Linked DNA regions of Homo sapiens. The protein of the gene in region 2 interacts with the protein of the main gene of each other region in a biochemical or structural test. Each region holds a gene or a part of one and is shown on either strand. Other genes may lie near its edges.

What was found. Proteins that work in one complex are often made in the same cells at the same time.
Region 1: the proteins of STMN1 (region 2) and RLIM form a complex in vitro, tested with the Homo sapiens proteins (one study listed by BioGRID).
Region 3: of the proteins of STMN1 (region 2) and CAMK2G, one has a biochemical effect on the other in vitro, tested with the Homo sapiens proteins (one study listed by BioGRID).

Annotation. Positions count from the first base shown.
Region 1 is NC_000023.11:74,590,625-74,598,205, forward strand, and holds part of RLIM (E3 ubiquitin-protein ligase RLIM), read right to left. Parts: intron 5,377-7,581; 5' UTR 5,354-5,376; coding exon 5,185-5,353; intron 3,766-5,184; coding exon 3,682-3,765; intron 2,438-3,681; coding exon 816-2,437; 3' UTR 1-815. UniProt on the Homo sapiens protein: E3 ubiquitin-protein ligase.
Region 2 is NC_000001.11:25,902,969-25,911,023, forward strand, and holds the start of STMN1 (stathmin), read right to left. Parts: upstream 3,452-8,055; 5' UTR 3,421-3,451; exon of another isoform or gene 3,394-3,420; intron 3,078-3,393; exon of another isoform or gene 2,884-3,077; intron 1,771-2,883; 5' UTR 1,709-1,770; coding exon 1,696-1,708; intron 846-1,695; coding exon 673-845; intron 1-672. UniProt on the Homo sapiens protein: Involved in the regulation of the microtubule (MT) filament system by destabilizing microtubules. Prevents assembly and promotes disassembly of microtubules. Phosphorylation at Ser-16 may be required for axon formation during neurogenesis.
Region 3 is NC_000010.11:73,815,556-73,823,136, reverse strand, and holds part of CAMK2G (calcium/calmodulin-dependent protein kinase type II subunit gamma), read left to right. Parts: intron 1-1,406; coding exon 1,407-1,455; intron 1,456-3,491; coding exon 3,492-3,605; intron 3,606-4,241; exon of another isoform or gene 4,242-4,869; coding exon of another isoform or gene 4,870-4,928; intron 4,929-5,582; coding exon 5,583-5,658; intron 5,659-6,019; coding exon 6,020-6,114; coding exon of another isoform or gene 6,115-6,428; exon of another isoform or gene 6,429-7,270; intron 7,271-7,581.

The sequences.
Region 1 (7,581 bases), on a different chromosome or scaffold from region 2:
GTTTGTTACTATGTTGGCTCACAAAAAGCAGTTTTCTCAGTTCTAAGCATGGTACTTTACAATTTTTAATGCATTCATACAACAGTGCATTGGAAAAGTACTGAGCCTCTACAAAATAGCTTTACATTTTTAAACAAATGAATGTGATTTTTTTTCACTTACACAAGCATAGGCTTTTTAATATTTCCACAAGATAAATATCTCAATTAAACTATAAGCTCACTCTACAGTGTGCCACAGTGATGGGCTTAGGAGACAGTTATACACTTAGAAGATCCTAACCTTAGTGTTATTTACACTGACATGTCCAGTATCACCAAGTCTGAAAGGTGAACAAACAATACTCAGAATGTGGCTGAATTTGTGTTAACTAATAACTGGGAATGATATAGCTTTAATCACTTATGAAACACATACTGTAACTTAGTCTAAACTGGTAATTTCCTTTGCTCCTCTCTTATGGTGTGGGAAAATTTAAAGATCAACATGAAAAAGGAGCCATTGCTAAGGCAGATCTTTTAAGATAACAAAGGAAAAATTGACAAGTGTATATGATAAATTATCAGTAACAGTGATGCTACCAATTTAACTGGTACGGAAATCAGATTTTTAGGTCCTATAACGTGGCTTTTAAAATATTTCCTTTTATTCTGGAACAAAAACTGGAGAAAGGACAATGATTCCTTCAGAAAGCAATGACTCAATTCAGGTTGTTACTTTACATTTAAGTACCACTCAAAAAGTGGACATAAAAGCAAGTGATTCCTGTTTGCCCATCACTATATCAGCTACATAGCTGAGAGTTCAGATCTTAATTACACAACACTTTCTCTGTTACCAGAAGCTAAGACTGCTCTGCGACAAATAGGACAGGTAGAATTCTCAGATAACCAGCGATCGATGCAGTGGACATGGTACTCATGGGAACAAGGTAGTTTACGAAGTTTGTTGCCTTCTGTATATTCTGTAATGCAAACACTACAGGTTTTTAATGCATCATTTTCACCAAAACTTCTCATTGCCAAGTTGTCAATCTGTTCTTTGGTGAGTCCTCTAGGTTGGTCATCATCATCCTCATTTAAGAGGAAAAACTGAGCCAGGCTAAGGAAGGGCAAAGAGCCACTTTCATCAAATGTGACTGGGGCCCTATGTCGACCCTCTCGCCTGGCACCTGATGAGCCTGATGATGAGCTTCCTTCATTACTGCCTTCAAATAAATCTGAGCTAGTTTCTGAACTTTCACCACCGGAACTGGAACTAGGACTGGAACTGGAACTTGAACTGGAACTGGAACTCGAACTGGAACTGGAACTCGAACTGGAACCAGAACTACTACCACCACCAGAACCTCCTCTTCCACTCCGTGACTCTGCCCTTTCCATATTTCGATTTGAGACTGAGCCAGTAGGCTCTGAGTCGCTATCACTGTACATAAAATAGCTTAACTCACCAAAACCTGTCATTATCTGCCTTAACATGGTCTGAATTGCAACAGATGTAGTCTCACTTAAACCAGTATTTAAGATTCTACGAATGGGAATTCTGATGGTACTGACATAGGTTCTCACACCTGCCCGCTCAGAACGTGAAAATGTACGCCTAAAACCTCCTCGTTCACTTTCATAGGTGACAGTGTTGTTTGGTGTCTGAGACCTAGACCGAGTTCTGCTGGCTATGCTATCTCTCTGCCGATATTCTCCAGGACGAACTCTTCTTACTTGAAGATCAAGGACTATGGTTGGAGGTCTCTGTCCTGATCCTGTAGATTCACCACTGGCAGCTGTGTCTGAAGAACCTGCTCCTTGAGAAGCATTTCTTGTTCCAGAAGCTGCAAAAAGACCTCTACTTAGCAACTCAGGCCCAGATATTTGCTGCCTCAATGTCACATGGTGCCGGGTTCTAGAACTTCCCTCCGTCTCATTTACCAAAGGATGTTCAAAAGTCTGAGATGAGATACTATGATGAGATCTTCGTGGAATTTCACTCATTGGATGCAGAGGTGACCTACTTCTTTCAGCTCTTGCTCTGGTTCTCCGATGGTCTGGGCTCCTGCTTCTTGCCCTCCTCTGACCTCTGGTAGGTGGGACCTCTGTTAACGCTTCAGTTGAATTTCGTTCTGATCTAGATGGCCTTGCAGATGTTGATTCAGATCGTGGGTTTTCCACTTGCCTTTGGCTGTTGTTTTCCACATTTTCTCCACTAGAACGTCTTGCAGATGGCTCATTTTCATTCTCTGAATTTTGGCTCCCATTATTACGGTTAACATTTATCTCTAAACTGAATCTGAAATCACCACTGTTTGGATTAGTCCGACTCACTGCTCTCCAAGATTGGTTTCCTCTTTGCCCACTTCTTGTTGTATTTCCAGTTTGTCTGACAGAGTTAAGCCAGTCTATTATAGAGTCACCATTAGACACATCATCTGAAGAGTCTCCTCCTGTTCAAAACAAAGGAGGGGGAGAGGGAGAAAAAGGAACTACTAAAATGAGGACAATCATATAAGTGCTCTGAAACTCTGCATTAAATAACTTAAAAATTCGGAACACATTTCATAATTACAGATTTTTACAAACTATACTGCATAAATTTATAAGGTAAGAAAATTCTAATTCCATTTGAAAAGAGCAAGCTACACTAGAGAAATTTAGAGAATTATTTGATTTTTAAAGGGAATCTGGAGGAAGTCTATTTTCAGTATTTTATCATATACAGAGCCAAGCATACCACTGTGGGATGGTCAGAAGACGTTTTTTCAGTCCTCTGCCAAAATACTAATGTAATCAAACTAGGTAAGGAAACAGTGTTTAACGAACAGTCACATTTAGTTCAAGCTACATTTCTGTCAAATTTTTATTAGTCTACATACTGTGCCTTTGATAACATTTGAGGTTGTTTTAAAATACAGGACTATTTATTGTAGCCATAAGAAAAATACAAACAAGATTTATAGGTTTAAAAGCATTTGAATATTTCTTAATGTTACCAAGGTTTTCAATGGACATGAAGTTAAAGATCAGATCAAATAAGTAGTCTGAACCTTGCATAGCACATATAATGGCATGTTCAAGAACCAAATTATTATCGTAGCCTCTCAGGTTGCACAATCAAAATCCCTACTTGACACTGGGAGGGAAACACCAGACCTGAGGTTAGAGCAGGATTTCTCAACAGTGGTACTACTGACATTTTAAGCCAGTTAATTCTGTGTCATGGGGGCTGTGTTGTGCATTATGGCATGTCAGGATGTTTGGCAGCATTCCTGCCCTCTACACAAATGTCTCCAGACGTTGCTAATGTCCCACATGGGGCAAAATTATATCTCATTAGGAACCACTGGGTTTAGACATTTCTTTTTGCTGGTGAAGAAGTCACATGTTTATAAAGAAGGAATTAAGTAGGAATAAATTTCAATGGAGGTGAAAAACAAACAAACAAACAAAATCACATTTAAATGGGCCATTTCTCACTGTGTTCCAATTAACATAAACATCTCAAAGGTGAGGTAGAAAAAAAATGCTGACATTCTAAGTATCAAGAAAATGTCAGTTTTCTTTTTATGAGCAGTTACTTAGCACCAAATTAATTTGTGCCAAATCTGGATAATCTTTGGCTGACATTTACTATTACAAAGTTCCTATCATCCCATCGTCTATCCACCTCCCCACCAAAACCAAAACATACCTCTATTTTCATCTGAGTTTTGCGGTGGTGGGCCTTCTTTAATTTGCTGTAGTCGTCTCAGCAACTCTTCCTCAGTACTTTCACCTGAAATTTAACACCACAGGGCAAAGATGACATTAGGGGTATGACAATCAAATACTTTATCAGTGACTCACAGTAATCTGACACAAGATGATTAGAAAAAAAATCATATTTTTAAAAGAGAAAACTTTTTCAAACCAAAAAGAAAAACCAAGGAGTAGGTAGGTCCTGGGAAAAATTCACTTCTTTGGAAACATATTAAAAGCAATTTACAAAGTTCTTTTGCATATAACATCTAACTTTGGCTCACGCCTGTACTCCCAGCACTTTGGGAGGCCGAGGCGGGTGGATCACCGGAGGTCAGGAGTTCGAGACCAGCCTGGCCAACATGATGAAACCCCATCTCTACTAAAAATACAAAAATTAGCCAGACATGGTGGCAGGTGCCTGTAATCCCAGCTGCTTAGGAGACTGAGGCAGGAGAATCGCTTGAGCCCAGGAGGCAGAGGTTGCAGTGAGCAGAGACTGCACCACTGCACTCCAGCCTGGGCGAAAGTGCAAGACTCTGCTTAAAAAAAAAAAAAAAAAAAAAAAGGCAAAGGCAATTCTAAGCTGGGCGCACAGTGGTACCACATCTGTAGTGCCAGCTCGTTGGGAGACTCAGGCGGAAGAATCCCTTGAGTCCAGCCTGGGCAACATGAGACCCTGTCTCAAAAATAAATAAGTAAGTAATTTTTAAGAATTGCAGCTTTGAGAGGAGGATATTGTTATCTGCATTTTAAAATTAAGAAACAGACTGAGCGACAGACTGGCTTGCCAGGAGCCACACCAAACAGCAGGGCCAGAACTCCACCTAAAGCATTCTGATTCAAGCCTGGTATTGTTGGCTAAAAACACACTCCCTCTCTTAAAAGTCATGCTAAAACCTTACCTTTTAAAATCTAAGCAATTACTCAAAGGTAAGTAGAATTAAACAGAAATGAAGAGGAAGACAGATACTGACTTTTAACTAGGATCAAATGGGACTTAGTGGGGTAAAAGATAATTAAGCACAAACTTCTAATTGCTATGTTACCCAAGGCTAGCTCTGGAGGATTACAACTGGGACATATTCAGAAAATCAGAGATAACAGAATAAGTCTTTCCTAAAAACTAAGTTCCCATTAGCTATTCCACACTCGGATTCTTATCTAGTAAGTTAGATAAAGCTAACTAAGAAAAAAAAGATTTAGCTCCATTCTTTTCAATTCAGTTCGCTAAAAATTCATAATTCATAAGTTAAAAATCTCTCTGATATAGTGTAATTCCAAACATCAGTAAATATAATCAGGTAATAAATACAGCAATAAATGTCATTCCATATCCCCTATGTTAAATAATATTTCATAAGGGCTAAAGAAATGGATTTTTAAAACAGGTTCAAGCATTTTTTTTTAAACCAGCAACTTACACTTATAAATCCTTAAATATATGTAAGCATACCTGGGGTGCCTAGCAAATTGTTATCTCTCATAAGCCTATAATCTTCTTCACTCAGGTTATTTACAAATTGATAGAAAGCTTCTTCTCGATCCAATCGGTCCATCTGACTTCTGCGCTGTGCTGCAGACTGATCACCACTTCCTTTGTCATTGGAATCTGAGTTTTCCATATTGATGAACAAGTGGAAAATACCTGAAAAGAGAAAAGAGACTAATCTTGAAAATAAAGGTCACTATGTATTCTATACAAGTTTTAATTATGTGAAAATCCAGAATGTAGGTCTAGAGATGGATTTTCAGACCTCAAATGAAATTTCCTAACAAAAACTCCTGAAAAGCACTGTTATATTAAGAGTAGGTCAAGGGTTGGCAAACTACAGCCCTTGAACCAGACAGGGTTGGCGAACTAAAGCCCTTGGGCCAAATCCAGCCATACTGTGGTATTTTTTGTTTTTTGAGATGGAGTCTCGCTCTCTCAACCAGGCTAGAGTGTAGTGGTGCGATCTCAGCTCACTGCAACCTCCACCTCCTGGGTTCAAGTGATTCTCTGCCTCAGCCTCCCGAAGTAGCTGGGACGACAGGCACCTGCCACCACGCCCAGCTAATTTTTGTATTTTTAGTAGAGACAGGGTTTCACCATGTTGGCCCAATCTGGTCTCAACCTCCTGAGCTCAAGTGACCTGCCCTCCTCAGCCTCCCAAAGTGCTGGGATTACAGGCATGAGCCACCGCACCCAGCCTCGTGCTGCATATTTTTATTCTCCTTGCAACCTAAGAATGGTTTTTAGAGACTATCTTGTGACATATGAAAATGCAATGAAATTCACATTTTAGTGTTCATAAAGTTTTATTGGAACGCAGCCATACACATTCATTTACATGTTATCTATGGCTGCTTCTGTGCTATAATGGCAGAGTTGAGCAGTTGTGACAGACTGTATGTGGCACTCCCATTGCTTTGGACTGCTGCTCTGTGCACTCTTAAGTTGCAGTGATGTAGCTATAATGACAGCATTTCAAGTGCCTTCACACTGGACATTAAAAAAAACTGAGTATACACTCATCATCTCAAACAAAGAGAAAAGTGGACTCTGAATGTCACGCTTAAAGGTGCAGCAGAGGATGGGTTTTTCAAAAATCAGATTAGATGGCAAAGAATGCATGATTATGCAAAAAATACTATATACTAAATACAATATATACTGACACTATTAAACACTAGTGACAATATTCCCAATTCACAGGAAAACTACAGTTCAAAAAGTTAGAAAATTTAAAGTGAAATCTCATCACAAAATATTTCTTCACAAAAATAAAAATGAGGCTTCAATCAAAGTAAATTTCCCAGGGGCTCATTTATTGGCTAAACGAGGAAAGCTGTTTATTGATGGTGAGTTAGTGAAATTATGTTTGAGTGCAGAAGCTGAAGAAATGTGTCCAGAGAAAATAAACATAATATTGGACTTTTGGTAAGTATAGTGGTCCAAAAAGCTGGGAATATTGAAAAGCAATGTCACTAATCAACTGAAAAATAAGGTAAATGATGGAGTGGTTTTCTCTTTGGCTCTTGATTTGTTGACAAATGTAACTGATACTACTTAAGTTATTGTTTATTCAAAGAGCCAAGTGTTGATTATTCAAGGAGTTTGAACTGCAGAAGTAGCCCCTATGTGTAGTCTACATGAAATAATCATAGGTGAGAATATTTTCAAAGTTGAGAAAACTAATTCAGCAAAACCTGAAGCAGAATCTCATAATAAGATATGTTACTACTGGAATGGTAAAAATATATATGGAATGGAAAAAGACCTAGTTGGACAAATTTACAAAGTTTATGAAAATGTAAGGTATTTAACGTTTATGGTTATATATTTTATTACTCATCATCAAGTGATCTGAAGAAAATTTCAATCTATCATATTACTGAACCAGTAGCACTAATGATAAACTTCTCTCTTATGAACTCTGGTTTAAGCTCAAGTTCCATGAATTTTTGTCAGAAATTTTGTCTTGCTCTACAACACAACATTTGATGGGCTAATATTGGTAAAGTTTTATTGTGATTTGTTGTGCTCAAGGCAAAGATGGATTTATTTTCTGTGAGAACCGCTCTCAATTACTATTATCAAACAATAAATAGCTTGGAAAATTAGTGTTTCCTGCAGACTTGATAATGTTTCTTAATGAATCCATCCTAAAACAACAAAGCAAAAAATACTTATATATGAAACTTATACTGTGGTAAAGCCATTTCAGCAACAACATTGGTATCACATGTAATGTCAAGCTGTTTTATATACTTCATGTCCTGACAAAGTAATGAGAGCTCCATTCCCACACAAATTTGTAGCACATACATTTTCTGAGCTCAAACTACAGTTCCAGAACTGTTTTGCAGA
Region 2 (8,055 bases):
GAGTAACATTGAATGGAAAGAAACACACCAAAATGTTAACACTGGTTGCTTCTCGGAAGCGGGATAATGAATACTTTTAATTTCCATTTATAAATTTCTGTATTTCCCAAATTTTCTACAACTAGCATATTAATATTTATTGATTCTTCTGATTAGCTTTTAAAGATAGTTACTTTATAATAGAATTGTTTAGATAAGAGAAAAGCTACCATGATACCAGCTGAGCAACACAATCACACTAGCAATTTAAAATGTTATTGTACAGCTCTCAAAAAACAAAACCAAAGTGCCAAAGAATCATCTGGCAACAAATCTTTTCAAAGAGGAAGCATGAGAGAAGCATGAGCTTTGGTTTAAGATAGACCAGGGCTTGAATTCTGACCCCAACACTTACTAGTTGTATGACTGCAGAAAAACGACTTAACATTCCTGAAACTGTTTCTAATTTCCATTATTTGAGGCAACACCATGTATTAAAGGAGAAAAATATAAACAAAGGAGCGGGCATGTAACAGGAGTTCAATAAATGAGGACTGGTATTTCCTTCCAGTCACTGGCATATGTAATAATCACAGTGTAGCTACAATTCTGTTTTCTTCCTGTTATAGAAATAAAATTGATCTGCCCATTACATAAATTAATATCCTGCTTTCTGTGAATTGCTTCGTTTACCTTGCGTCTTTCTTCTGCAGCTTCTAATTTCTTCTGAATTTCCTCCAGGGAAAGATCCTTCTTCTTTGGAGGGGAAAGGGGGAATTCTGGAACAGATTCTTTTGACCGAGGGCTGAGAATCAGCTCAAAAGCCTGGCCTGAGGCACGCTTCTCCAGTTCTTTCACCTGGATATCTAGAATTGATTATATTTATAATTCAGAAAACCAGGATTCTCCTGTTCTAATAAACTGTACTATAATTTTCTAAAACCCAAATCAATTTAATGTATTAAACTAGGGCTGATGAGGAAAGTTGTGTTTTTTTTCCCCTTTTTATTCCTATCAGTCTACTGACACTAGGGGAAGATGTATTTGCAGGCAAGATATTATTATCTAAATACCATTTCCCAAGGCCAGGTACCATGGCTCATGCCTATAATCCCAGCACCGTGGGAGGCCAACATGGGAAGATCCCTTGAGCCCTGAAGTTTGAGACCAGCCTGGGCAACAAAGGGAAAGCCCATCTCTACAAAAAAAATTTTTTTTGATTAGGTGGGTGTGGTGGCCCATGTCGATAGTCCCAGATGCTATGGAGGCTGAGGTGGGAGAATCGCTTGAGCCCACTTGAGCTCCAGAAGTCAAGGCTGCAATGAGCTATAATTAAGCCACTGCACTCCAGCCTGGGCAACAAGGTGAGACCCTGTCTCAAAAAAAATAAAAACCATCTCCCAGAAAAACAAAGCTCAACATTTTTGGATTAATAAATACTGTTTTGAGACATCAGTATCTGACAATCGCTTTCATAAACAAAAGACTTGTGCAAACTCCACAATTTTGCTTCAGACTAAGCCAAACTGTCCAATAAACAATTACGAGCTCTCGGCACATTCAAGTGATAATCATTTTTAAATTCTTCTCCTATTCATAAAATAGGTTTTGGTAAGACCAAAACATAAGTGCCAAATCAAAGGCGAAGACCTGAGCCATCTCAATCTAAAATCATAAGCCCATTACAATTTCAGATTTTCCAAATAGATTACCTACCAGAAGAAGCCATGGTGAATAGAAGACAAGCGACAGGCAGTGTATTCTGCACAATCAACTGGGATAAGGAAAGTCCTGAAAATGATTTTCAAAAACATGCAATCACTTTCTTTGCCTTTCTATATGTCATCAACCCAAAAAAATCTCACATCACATCTACATACATCGTCAGAAAAATACGTGGAATAAAGACGTCTAAATTAACCACGAAAAAAATTATCAAAATCTACTAAATAAACATTGGGAAATATGACCTGAATATGATATTGGTTCCAGAAAATCAAGTTAACTGAGCTTTCTCGGTCATAAAACTCTTGGATTTTTAAAATCAGACAAAGTCACAAGGGTGAAGAATTTTTCCCCCATAAACTCTTTAACATTTCACCGAAACTGTAAGAAGATATTCCAGATTCAACTCAACAGTGCCCCCGGAGCCATCTTAATACTGCCTACAACTCATTGTGCAAATGAAATACCCACCCCTGCTTTGTCTGTGTCTGACGTGGTGGATAAGAAAACGCCCAAGCTAATAGTAACCAATAATGTTGAACTCCTATTGTCCCTCAGGTTTAAGCTTCCTTGCCCAACAGCAAGCAAAATGTTTATGAACCTCTAGATTTTGACTTATATTTGCTGCCGTTATGTCATGAAAAATGCTGTATCTCTTGTTGATCTTTTTAACATTATGACTTTTGTAGACGCCAGCTAGTACCAAAAACGTAGGATGACAGGTTCCCAAAAGCTAGGAATTAAAATCAGAGGCAGCGACAAGATTTAAGAAAAGCAGAGAATTAGACGCAGCACCGGACCCAGGATGGGCGTGGCCCTGGTCCGGGCGAGGAAAAGAGGACCGGTCGCCCCCGGCCAATCAGAGCACGCCTTGCGCTCCGGCCCCTGGCCCCGCCCCCTTCCTCCCCGCGCCTTTTCGAATCTCCCCGAACTCAACACCCCGGAGCCCGCGCGCGTGGGAAGGGGAGGGGTGGGCGGGGCTAACGGTCCAATCCGGGTAACTCCGCCCCTGCCTGACTCCCCCTGCGCGGACGCCCCCCCCAACTCCCGCCAAAAACACCTCCAGGCCGCCGCCACCACCCCCTTCACAGTTCAGCGGGTGGGGCAGGCCCCGGGAACAGGCCCCCGGGTGGTCCCGCGGTGAGCTCGCCACCGCCTCCCGCCGTCCCCATGCCCAACCTGCCGCCACCCACGCTGTCCGCGCGTCCGGCCGCGAAGACAGAAGAACCCTCGTGGGGCCCGGGAGCGCCGCCCCTCAATCACCAGCTGCGGTCGCCAGGGGACGGTCGCAGGGAGGGTCGCGGCCCTGGCTGCCCGCAGTTTGGTCCTAAAGCCGCTGGTCCCTGGGGCACCGCCCCGTCCCTTCAGACAATGGGGAACCCGGCGGGGCCCGCAGGGAAGGGAGGGAGGGAGGGAGGTAAACGAGGGCCCACGCCCCCTATTGTCTCCTCGACGGCACCCCGGAGCGGACGCCCGGTGATCGCCCAGCCCCCTGCCCACGAACAGCCGCGCCCCCGGAGAGCGGGGACAAAGGCGAGGCTCCGCCCGAGCCACACACAAAGCGGAGCGACCCCCGCCCACCAACCCCTCCGAGGCCCGCAGCCCCGCCCGCCGCCCTGCAGCAGGGGGTCGCTGCCACGGCCCAGCCCCTCCCGCCGACCGCGTCCCTCTTGCTGGCCTCAGCCAGCCGCCGCCTCCTCCGAGCCCCGCACCCACCTGCTCAGTCCGAGCCGCCTGACCACACTCTGAGCACCAACAGACCCGGGCGCGCACAAAAGCGCCAAACAGAGGCACGTGACCTCCGCGCGGGGCTCCGCATTGGCCGAGAGCGGCGGCACGTGCCGCCCCCGCCCCCCACAACCCGCGTGGAGCGCCGCCCCCCGGGACCCCGAAGCACCTCGGGAAGTGTAGTCCTGTCCCGGAGGGCAGGAGGACAATGCCGGGGGTTGCAGGGCGCCTGGGGAGCATCCCCAGGTGTGGGCCTGGGACTAGGGGGGTGGTCTCGCCGTGGAAGAGGGCGTGGCAGTGGACCCCGGACTAGGTCCGAACCAGCTCCCCATTCTCGAGAACAAGGGCAGGGCGGAGCAGGCGGAGGGCGGGGGGGTCCTTCCCTACCTTTCCAAACTTTGGCCGCCTGGACTCCACCTTGTAGAGCCACATGCCCGCCTCGCCCCAAGGGCAGCACTCGGACAGAGCAGTGCCCCTTCTAGTGCGCCACCCACATGGGTGCCTAAGACGCCCGAGCCCCTGTGACAGCACAATGCCACTCCACGCCCCTGCAGGGCCCCCTGCCCCCGGCACCCTACACCGACACCGGCGTGTCACCCATATTGTGACATCATCGTAATTTCTAATCCACTCAGCCCACAGGTCGCGGGCGTGGCCCTTCCCTCACTGTGTGCGTTCTTGCCAGCATCCTCAGGTTCCCGAGCCGGTGACCAGGGACCTGTGCGGGAAAGCGTGGGGCTCTGGAATTTGATCGCCTTTGGTCTAACAAAGCCACTCAGCTTAAATGCAGACTCCATCTGTTCTTCCAAGCCTTCTGCGGATGATAGGGGAGGAAGAGCAATAGCCGTTCTAGACTACACAGATTGCAGTTAAGTGTTGCTTTTGTTCTCAGAGCACGTGCTCCCCAGAGCAGCACTGGGTTCTTTTTAAAAATCGAAAAAGGAGCCACAAGGTCACTGTTCTCCCTGACCTGGATAGCTCAGAACCTCAGCAAAGGCACAAAGGAAATTGGTCTGACCGTGCCTTAGAATAACTGGCCCTTTCTCTCACAAAAAGGGGAAAAAAATAAATGAAATGAACATGGTCCCCGCCTCCTCCCATTCTCTGACCAAGACCGTGTCCTCGGTTGGTGGTCAATACACCAAGACACCTGCTTTGAGATCTTGACTAAGCAGAAGAGATATCTTTATTTTATTAATGAGCTGCATCTCCCCAAATCAAGAAACAAATGTGACCAACCTTCCTGAAACAACAGTCCTAATTTAGAAAGACTCTCATGCCTAGTTAGTCACCAGGGATGTGCCAGAGATAAAATACAACTAAGGGGTGCCCAAGACAATAAAAACTGGATCATACAAGCAGCAGCACACTACACAAAGCAAACAATTAGCAATGCGCTGTTGCCTGAAATATGCTTGTTGCGGCATTTTTTCCAACAATCGCCCTTGTGTGGGGTCGGCCTCCCCCCCAAGCCAATCGAAGTGGTTTTCACTTAGCCTGTGAGCAGGACCAGGAATAATTCAGATACTGAGCCTTGAAAGGCTTCTTCTCAGACCAAACTTAGCTTCAAAATGGCTAGGTGCTTCCGTCTGTCATTTTTCTGAACAGAATCTCAGACATCATTAGAAAAGTTGGAGAAGGATGGGCATGAGACCCCTCAGGAAAGCGACAGATAGGCAGGCAACACAAATGAGCAAGGAACCCAAGCCCAAGAGGTCCTTACCCACTGAACAGGCTTTTTATCTTGAAGTCTTTGTATTTGATCTGGAGGTTCACAGAGGAAGGTCCCACTCATTTAATGCATTTTTTTAAGTACAATAAATTGCCACACAAAAGTCTCACATTCCTGACTATTAATGTTGTGACAGAAAAAAGAAATAAATCTTTCAAAACACTGATAATTTGAAAGCACTTACACTGCTTCCCCCCACATTTTCTTTCTCCCTAGAGCAGATGTCTATTTCCATGGAAACCATAGCAAGGAACGTAGATGTTAGAACTCATGTTCATTTTTAATCTTTTTTAGCAATGCCACTTGGCTTCTGGGTTTGTTGGGAGATGCCTGGTTCTGCCAGTCTGTGACAATGTTCCAAGCTCCTCACAGCTGCTTGAGGACTGAGAGGGCTGGGTTAAAGTTTCCCCTAGAATGAGCCTTTGAATAAAAAGGTGCTTTTGAGGTGGGATTCCTGTCCTTTTATTATTATTATTATTATTATTATTATTATTATTATTATTATTATTATTTGACTTAAAAAAAATTGAGACAGGGTCTCACTATGTTGCCCAGGTTGGCCTCGAACTCCTGGGTTCAAGCAATCCTCTTGTCTCAGCCTCCCAAAGTGCTGGGATTACAGGCATGAGCCACCACACCCAGTCTGATCCTTGTTCTTTAGGGTGGGGCTGCCTTCCCAAGAGCCAGATCACAGCTCATTATTGTCAGCTTTTGTGGGTGTCCTATATAAGCCTTGGAATAGGAAGGGCTTTCAACTGTAAGGAGAGACAACAGTTTTGCCACTTCACCTTGGAGAGGGGCAGAATCGCCCTTCTCGAAAGCTTCCTAAAACGAACTTCAAGATCCACTCTCTTCTGAAGTGGCAGCAAGGAGTTAATGTTCACATCTTGGAACTGTCTATCTTTGCCCATAAGAATTATTTTTGCTTCTGCTCAGATGGTTTGGTTGGATTGTTATGGAGCTGGCTGTGACTATGGAGCCACACAACGAAGTGGAGATAGGGCAGTCATCCAGCTTATTTGATCTGTGTAGACAGCTAAAGGAGAGCACTTCAGGCTTCAAAGTCTAGAAGGAATGTCTACACTGATCAAACGGCGGGCCAGGCCGTTGTCAGATCTCCTCTCCTGCCAGAGAGCCCGGCAGCCTTTGTTCATTGTTGGGCTTGAGGCTGCAGGGTTTGTCTCCCACATGGCGCCTCCAAGTTCCACAGCTGCTTTCGAGGCCTGTCCTCGGCCAAAGGGTGTCGTGGGAGAGGTTTGCTTGTTGTCCCCGGTCTCTCTGTTCCCTTTGTCTCCTAATCCTCAAGCACTATGCTCTAACACTCCCTTCTCTATTCAAAACCTGTCTATGAGTCTGCTGTTTTACACATCGATCTCCCTCACTAGACCATTAGGTCCTAGAGGGCAGGGTGCTGTCTTTGTCTTGGTATCCCTAGTGCAGTGCCCATCCTCAGGCCTGGCCCAGGATGATGGCGCCTGAATGTTTGCAGAGAACTTTGGGAAAGAACAACCTCTTGGCCGGGCACGCTGGCTCACACCTCTAATCCCAGCACTTTGGGAGGCTGAGGCAGGCGGATCACAAGGTCAGGAGATCGAGACCATCCTGGCTAACACGATGAAACCCCGTCTCTACTAAAAATACAAAAAATTAGCCAGGCATGGTGGCGGGCGCCTGTAGTCCCAGCTACGCACGAGGCTGAGGCAGGAGAATGGCATGAACCTGGGAGGTGGAGGTTGCAGTGAGCCGAGTTCACGCCACTGCCTTCCAGCCTGGGCGACACAGCAAGACTCCGTCTCACAAAAAAAAAAAAAAAGAACAACCTCTCTCATCCTTCTGTGATCTTCTGTCTCTTCTGTGATATTAGACACTTGCACTCTGGGAGTGGTGAGGATTAAATGAAATAATGTAAATGAAAACAGCACAATGCCTGGCACATTTAAAGTGCTGTGCACTTGTTAGGTATCATTGCTAGAGATGTTTCCTGATTGCTATAGATTATTTTATTTTTATTTTTTGAGACGGAGTTTTGCTTTTGTTGCCCAGGCTGCAGTGCAGTGGTGCAATCTCAGCTCACTGCAACCTCCGCCTCCCAGGTTCAAGCGATTCTCCCGCCTCAGCCTCCTGAGTAGCTGGGATTACAGGTGTGCGCCACCATGCCCAGCTAATTTTTTGTATTTTTAGTAGAGATGGGGTTTCATCACGTTGATCAGGCTGGTCTCAAACTCCTGACCTCAGGTGATCCACCTGCCTCGGCCTCCCAAAGTGCAGGGATTACAGGCGTGAGCCGCGGTGCCTGGCCTGCTATAGGTTATTGAATGAGTGAATGACTATTAGACTTTCACCCTTTGATGGAAATTGTAGTTACTGGGTTAACTCTTCCCATGGGGTTAAATTCAATTCATTTAACACTTTATTTTTTATTTTTATTTTTATTTTTATTTTTTTGAGCAACAAGGCTGTTTATTTCACCTGGATGCAGGCGGGCTGAGTCCGAAAAGAGAGTCAGCAAAGGGTGGTGGGATTATCATTGGTTCTTATAGGTTTTGGGATAGGCAGTAGAGTTAAGAGCAATGTTTTGGGGGCAGGGGATGGATCTCACAAAGTACATTCTCAAGGGTGGGGAGAATTACAAAGAAACTTCTTAAGGGTGGGTGACATTATAAAGAACCTTCTTAAGGGTGGGGGAGATTACAAAGTACATTGATCAGTTAAGGTGGGGCAGAAACAAATCACAATGGTGGAATGTCATCAGTTAAGGCTATTTTCACTTCTGTGGATCTTCAGTTGCTTCAGGCCATCTTGATATATACGTGCAGGTCACTGGGGATATGATGGCTTAGCTTGGGCTCAGAGGCCTGACATTCCTGTCCTCCACTGTAAGAGTTACCCGA
Region 3 (7,581 bases), on a different chromosome or scaffold from region 2:
TAATCCTAGCACTTTGGGAGGCCAAGGCGGGCGGATCACTTGAGGTCAGGAGTTCAAAACCAGCCTGGCCAACATGGCAAAACCCCATCTCTACTAAAGATACAGAAATTACCTGGGGATGGTGGCACATGCCTGTAATCCCAGCTACCTGGGAGGCTGAGGCAGGAGAATCGCTTGAACCTGGGAGGCGGAGGTTGCAGTGAGCTGAAATCGTGCCACTGCACTTCAGCCTGGGCGACAGAGCAAGACTCCATCTAAAAAATGAAAAACAGAAAAACCTCACCAAACTAGACAGAGAGAACAGGGCCTTGAATTAAGTAGTCAGGAGAGGGCTTCTTTCAGGAGGTGATATCTGAGCTAGAAACTGAATGGTGGGTGGGAAGGAGGCAGCCAGGCCAGCTCTGAGGCTGAGTGCCCTAAGCAGAAGGAACTGAAGCTCAGATGTGGCCTTTGTAATCAAGCAGAGGGAAGAGCAAAGTGAGACGGGGAGAACCATAGGAGAGTGATGAGGTTGGAGAAGCAGCAGGGCCTGCTACAGAGGCCCTTGTAGGAGTTTGCATTTTCTTCCAGCAGCAAGGAGAAGCTATTGGGAGTTCTTAGCAGGAGTAACAGAATCTAGTTGACACTTTAAAACACCACTCTGGCCTCATGATCAAGAACTCTAGGGAGGCCCGGGCGTGGTGGCTCACGCCCGTAATCCCTGCACTTTGGAAGGCCGAGGCGAGTGGATCAGCAAAGGTCAGGAGCTCGAGACCAGCCTGGCCAACATGATGAAACCCCATCTCTAATAAAAATACAAAAATTAGCCAGGCATGGTGGCAGGCACCTGTAATCCCAGCTACTCAGGAGGCTGAGACAGGAGAATCACTTGAACCCGGGAGGCAGAGGTTGCAGTGAGCCGAGATCATGCCATTGCACTCCAGCCTGTGCAACAAGAGCAAAACTCTGTTTCAAAAAAGAAAAACTCTAGGGAGGAGGTAAGTGTGGAAGTTAGGGAGACCATGAAGCTGTTATCATGGTTCAGGTGTGAGATGCTGGTGGCCTGGAGTCAGGTTGTAGCTGTGCATTGGAAGTGAAGAGGTAAGACATGGGGTTTACTTTGGAGGCAGAACCAGAAGATTTTATTTTAGATTGGGCGATCTGAATATAAGGGAAAAAGAGAAAGAGAAGGATTGAGGATGACTCCAGGTTTTAGCCTGAGTAACTGGGTAGATGGTGGCATTTACCAACTGGGGGAAGACTAGGGAGGGGATTTGGGAAGAGTCAGACAGCCAGGGTGGAAGCAGAACCTTCCACAATTCCTCCTTGCACCTCTTGTAGGAGCAGAAACTCTGCTTTTGTTCTGCTTTGCTCCTCTGGCTTCCAAGGGATGGAGCATATAGAAACATGTTCTTTTTGGCCTACAGGGCTCCACAGAGAGCTGCAACACCACCACAGAAGATGAGGACCTCAAAGGTAGGTGCTGGCCCTTGGAGGGGGAAGGACTCCAGCAGTGACCCAGGTACCTGGGCTCCAATGGGGCACCTGCCTTTTCTGTCCCCAGAACTGGGAATGCTGGCTCCTATGCCCCTAGGAGAGGGCTTGGTATAAAAGCTACTTTCCACGAGCCAAGATATGAGGCCCCTGTCTGGTGTTGCTGAGTTGGGCAAGAGGCTTCTCTTCTTTGACCCCAAGTCTAAAATAGCTAAGCTAGAGATTCTCCAGGGGCCAGGGCTCAGAGAACTGTTCCTGTTGCTGATAATGATGTGCCATCCAAGAACAGGGGTACCCCAAGTCCCTGCCGAAGTAGCCTGTAAGTGCTATGAGTCATAAATAGAGTGACCAATCACTCCTGGTTTTCCTCGGACACAGAACTTTTGGTTTTAAGACTGTGATGGGCCAGGAGTGCTGGCTCACACCTGTAATACCCAGAACTTTGGGAGGGCCAGGGCAGAAGGATTGCTTGAGACCAGGAGTTTGAGACAAGCTTGGGCAACATAGCAAGACCTTGTCTCTATTAAAAAAAAAAAATTAGGAACAAATAAATAGGCCAGGTGCGGTGACTCACACCTGTAATCCCCACACTTTGGGAGGCCGAGGCAAGTGGATCACTTGAGGTCAGGAGTTCAAAACCAGCCTGGCCAACATGATGAAACCCCGTCTCTACTAAAAATACAAAAAAAGGCCGGGCGTAGTGGCTCACGCCTGTAATCCCAACACTTTGGGAGGCCAAGGTGGGTGGATCACCTGAAGGTCAGAAGTTCAAGACCAGCCTGGCCAACATGGTGAAACTCCATCTCTACTAAAAATATAAAAAATTAGCCAGGTGTGGTGGCAGGTGCCTGTAATCGTAGCTACTCGGGAGGCGGAGGTGGGAGAATCGCTTGAACCTGGGAGGTGGAGGTTGCAGTGAGCCGAGATCACCCCATTGCACTCCAGCCTGGGCAACAAGAGCGAAACTTCTTCTCAAAAAAAAAAAAAAAAAAAAAAAAAATTAGCCGGGTGTGGTGGCGGGGTCCTGTAATCCCAGCTACTCGGGAGACTGAGGCATGAAAATGGCTTGAACCCGGGAGGTGGAGGTTGCAGTGAGCTGAGATTGCACCACTGCACTCCAGCCTGGGTGACAGAGCGAGACTCTGTCTCAAGAAAAAAAAAAAAAAAAAAATATATATATATATATATATATATATATAAATATAAAACCCAGATAGTCCTGGGAACACTGGGATGAGTTGGTCACTCTAGTCCTAAGATTTTGGCCTGAATGATGGAGTTGGAACTAATCTGACAACCGTGAGGCCACATTTGGTCATGTCCTGGTGGGCCCGTAAGGACCACTAGCCTAAGCTTGGGCCTGGCTAGAGTGCCAGGGCGGTGGGAGGGCATGGCAGGCTGGACCCCCGGGAATCTCTGTCCTGCTCTTTGATTGGGCCTCCTGGAATTGCTCCCTTTGCCTGAATTCAGTAAGTGACCTTGGGCCAGGACATCAGAAAAGACAGAGGAACACTCTAGGACAGAGCTGGGAGAGCATGCCCTGGGTGGCAAGGGGGCACCAAACCTTTTGGAACCAAAAAAAATAGCAGAAAGCTGCGAGGAAGTGAATCATAGTAGCTCCAGGCCCCTGTGAGTGAGGTCAGATCAGTTTTGATTCCGGCACTGCTGGCAACATAGGAGGCGCTGTCACTGCTGGGCTCTGGACCCTGTGGCCTGGCCCCCTGGAACATCTTCCCCGGGATCAGGGGTCCTTGGACAGGCTGTTGTAAGGCTCGTCTGGAAGCCACAGCCCAGGTCTGGGCACCTGCCTGGTGCCCTCAGCTGGGAGGCCTCTCTGGCAGAGGCGGCGGCGTGGGATGTCGTCCAGTGTCCACAGCAGCCTGAGGCGAGGCGTCCCCTTGCCCCGGCTCTGCAGCGCCATGGGCTCGGGGCCTGTCTGGCTTGCTCGCTCACCTGCCTTGTTCTGTTTGTTTTGGCTGCTCTGCCTTGCCCTGCCCTGCCCTGCCCTGGCTGGCTAGCTGCCCCGCTCCGCACTGGGAATGGCAGCTCGGTGCCTGAAGGACGGAGCTCCCGGGACAGAACAGCCCCCTCTGCAGGCATGCAGCCCCAGCCTTCTCTCTGCTCCTCAGCCAGTAAGTGTGAGGGAGGCACATTCTGGCTTCCGTCTCCCTGGCTCGTCCTGAAGCCCCTCAGGGACCCCCACCACAGCTGTCAGTCCCACCCACCTGCCCGTGGTAGTAAGCTCTGGGAGCATGGCCTCTGCTGGGGGTGGGGGGTAGACTGGAGGTGCTGTTGAGACCAGGCAGGGGCCCCTGAGTCTGGGGCCCAAAGAAATATGAGAAGTGTGGGTGGAAAAACATGGCCTGGGATGAGGGGAGTAGAAAGCCCCCAGGATGTGCAGTGGGCCTTGCCTCAGCGCTGAGCCAGGAAGAAGGGCAGAGTCGGAAGTCAGGTCTGTGGGGGTGGGAGTGGGATGATGGGGAAATCGTGACAGCGAGGAACTGTGTTGGGGATGTAGTGCTTCCTGAGTCTCAGCATAACAGTATTAAGAGCATGGGGTCAGAGGCAAGATAGATCTGAGTTTAAATCCCAGCTACACTGCCTTCAAGAGTGTGAAGTTTAACCTCCCAGAGCTGCAGGTTCCTTATCTGTAATGTGGAAATAAAATGGCACGCACCTCAGAGCCTTGTTAGATAAAAGACAAGGCAGTAGGAAGTCTTGATACGGTGCCTCGATGGGTTATCAGTAGCTCATCCTCATATTTCTAGTTACGTCTGTGCTGGAGGATGCCTTTGTCTGCTGCTTTTCCTCCCACCATCTATCCTTGCAGAGTTTCTAAGCACAACCCTCTTCGCCCGTGGGGCCCCAGTCAGGTCATCCAGATGGGTCTGGTGGGGTTGGAGAGGGTGTGTGTGTTGTGGGTGCACACCTGCCTGCTGCTTTTGGAAGCCGATCGAACTCCTTGCTTCCCTTAACCTGCTGCTTGCTCACCTGGAGCTGTGGCCTAGCGGGGCTGACGGCTGTGGGGCCCCCTCCTGGATGTGCCTTTGGCTGCGCTGCCCTGTCCCAACTGTGCTGCTTGGCTGTGCTGGCCCGGCTGGGCCGTGGTGGTGCTGTTCTAACGCTTGCAGTTGTCTTGCAGCCTTTTGCTCCTGTGAGGAAAGGGTTGTGGCCTGGCCCCGCCCAGGGCTCGGGTTAGGATGAGCCCAAGCTCAACCCAAGCTCTCCCTTACCCTGGTGGCAGCCCCTGCTGGTAGTGGCATTCCCTATAAGAGAAGCCCATGCCGGCAGGACATCACCAGCTGTCCCTTGGCTTTGGATGGGTTGGGGAGGAGGCCTCTGGAGGGCACCACCTCTGCCTGCCTGTCAGTCTGAGCCCTGTCTGGTTTTCCTGAGGAACACGTCCTGGCAATGAGAGCTGGTGTGAAATGTGCAGCTTTCCCAAGCCTCGAGAGGTAAATGGAGCAGCCTCTCTGGTACAGGCTGTCCCAAGTTTTTACAGTTCTGGGATCATTTCTCCCAGAAAAGCCCTGTGGAGTTGAGCAGTGGGAAGCATCCATCCTAGGGTTCTGATGGTCCTTTGGCACCCCAGCCCTAGCTGGATTCTGCTGTCAGGCTACCTGTCACCCAGGGCTGGGTCCTGGCCACTGAATGAGGGCTACGAGTGGGGGTGGTGATTGAGACCTGACTGAGCCCCTTCAGGTGAGAGAAGTAAATTGGGGGTGGAAGCGGCCTTATTGGGAGATGCTTGTGAGAGAGGCTGCTCATACAGGGGAGGGGCTCACAGCATTCACGATGTACCAGGCTCCTCACCTGTTAAAGGCAAGCGTGTTTTCTGCAACCTGGTTGTTGATGGAAAGGGAGGCAAAGGCCAAAGAACCATAACTAATGGCTGGGCTTCAGGAGAAAGTGGTCATTGTCTCTGCAGACTGCAGAGAGGGAGACGGGAGGGAAGGTGTGTTCGCTCTTCCTGCCAAGGGCCCTAGAGACAGAGAAGAGGGATGTCTTTGTCATAAGCGATCACAGGGGACTCCTGAGGACTGGGGAGGGCTCTCTGTAACTTGGGAGGTTCCCCAGTAGGTAAATTGATGGATTTTTCTCCCCCACAGTGCGAAAACAGGAGATCATTAAGATTACAGAACAGCTGATTGAAGCCATCAACAATGGGGACTTTGAGGCCTACACGTAAGTAGAGACCCATTTTTTTTTGTGACCTAAGTCATCTCCCAAGGCCTTCCCTGCTTCCAGACAACAATTAGGACCCTGGGGAAAGGGAGGTTGGACCTTGGGCAAAGTATCTGAGTTAAGCCCTCTCCTAAACTGGGAGCCCTTCCAGGTAGATTCCCTGAGCTCACCCATGGTATCCTGGCAGTGGGCCGAAAGCACAGGGCTGAGTGGCTCAGCAGGCAGGCCTGGAAGATCTTTGCTGTCTTGTCTGGCATGGCCACAGGTAGCCTGCTGCTACTGGATAGACACCGCTGATAAGGAAGGAAGACAAGTCACTCCATAGAAGCCTGATAGGCTGCTTTTTTTTTTCTCCCTGTAGGAAGATTTGTGATCCAGGCCTCACTTCCTTTGAGCCTGAGGCCCTTGGTAACCTCGTGGAGGGGATGGATTTCCATAAGTTTTACTTTGAGAATCGTGAGTGGGTTCGTGCTGCTGATATACTCCTGCCTGCCCCTTTACCCCTTTGTCTCTGTCTCCTGCTCACCTTCTCATCCCAGTTGCCCACTTTTCCCTTATTTGACCTTCGTGCTGCACTCCTACTCTGTATGCTTGTCCCCTTGTGCCCCGATGGTTGTAGACAGGCACCTTTGAAGGCCCTGCTCCTGAGCTCCAAGTGCCATTCATTCTGCAGCTGCTTTGTGGCAGTGCCAGTCACCACAATCAAGCTCACTTATTTCTTGCCGGGCGCGGTGGCTTACGCCTGTAATCCCAACACTTTGGGAGGCTGAGGCTGGCGGATCACGAGGTCAGGAGATCGAGGCCATCCTGGCTAACACGGTGAAACCCCATCTCTACTAAAAATACAAAAAATTAGCCGGGCGTGGTGGCGGTGCCTGTAGTCCCAGCTACTCGGGTGGCTGAGGCAGGAGAATGATGTGAACCTGGGAGGCAGAGCTTGCAGTGAGCCAAGATCAGGCCACTGCACTCCAGCCTGGGCAACAGAGCAAGACTCCATCTCAAAAAAAAAGAAAAAATTATTTAAGCCTCACCTCTTTCCAAGACGGATTGGAAGGAAACCCTTTGAGATTAGGTTGAGATGATCTCAGCACATAAGAACTAAGCTCTGTGTCTGCAGGTTTCACAATAGAGGAAATTAAAACCAGGATAAGAATGTGCAAACCAGGGCACTGTTGGTGATTTGCGAGATCGGAAGTTGTGGCTAGAATCTTCCTGACTATGGAGGAAGGCAGACGTCTTGTATAGGGGGTGGGGTGTACATTCTGGACAGTTCATGGAAAATAAGGGGATAAGAAGCTGAATCATCACCCCCTCCCATCTTTCTCTCTGCTCTATGAGACCCTCCCCTTCCTTATTTTTATCTCTTCCCACTTTATGCTGGGCCTTCCCTATCCTGCCCTGAGTTATAGTTAGTCACTAACTTCTCCGCTGGCTCCCACCCTTATCACATCTCAGCTACATATATAAACTCTCTGTTATCTAAGTAATTCTATTAGCCAGAAGCAATTCCAGAGTTTATATTAGTACTAGGAAGGTGTCATGTAGCCCCTGTCTAACATTTGAATTGAACTAAAATGTGAATCTCAATAAAAGCAACACAGTTTTCACAGCATATGCTGATAATGGCAATCCAACTTCTTTTGCCTTTTCCCCAGAGAATCCTGGGAATATCCTGAGCTTGGTGCTTTGATGATTCTATTTCAGCTTTGGTGCCTTAAAAAAAATTACAAATCAATTTTGAATGGTTTAAGTTCATGATTTTGTTCTGCAGCCCTAGCTAGGGGTGAGCCAAGCCTTATGAAATCTAAACTCAGCCTAACAGAATAGAAAATCTATAGGCTTTAGTTAAGAGTCACATGGTCCTGAGTTCAGGTGTGTGATTTGAGCAAATTATTCCTTGAGCCTATTTCCTCATCTTATAAT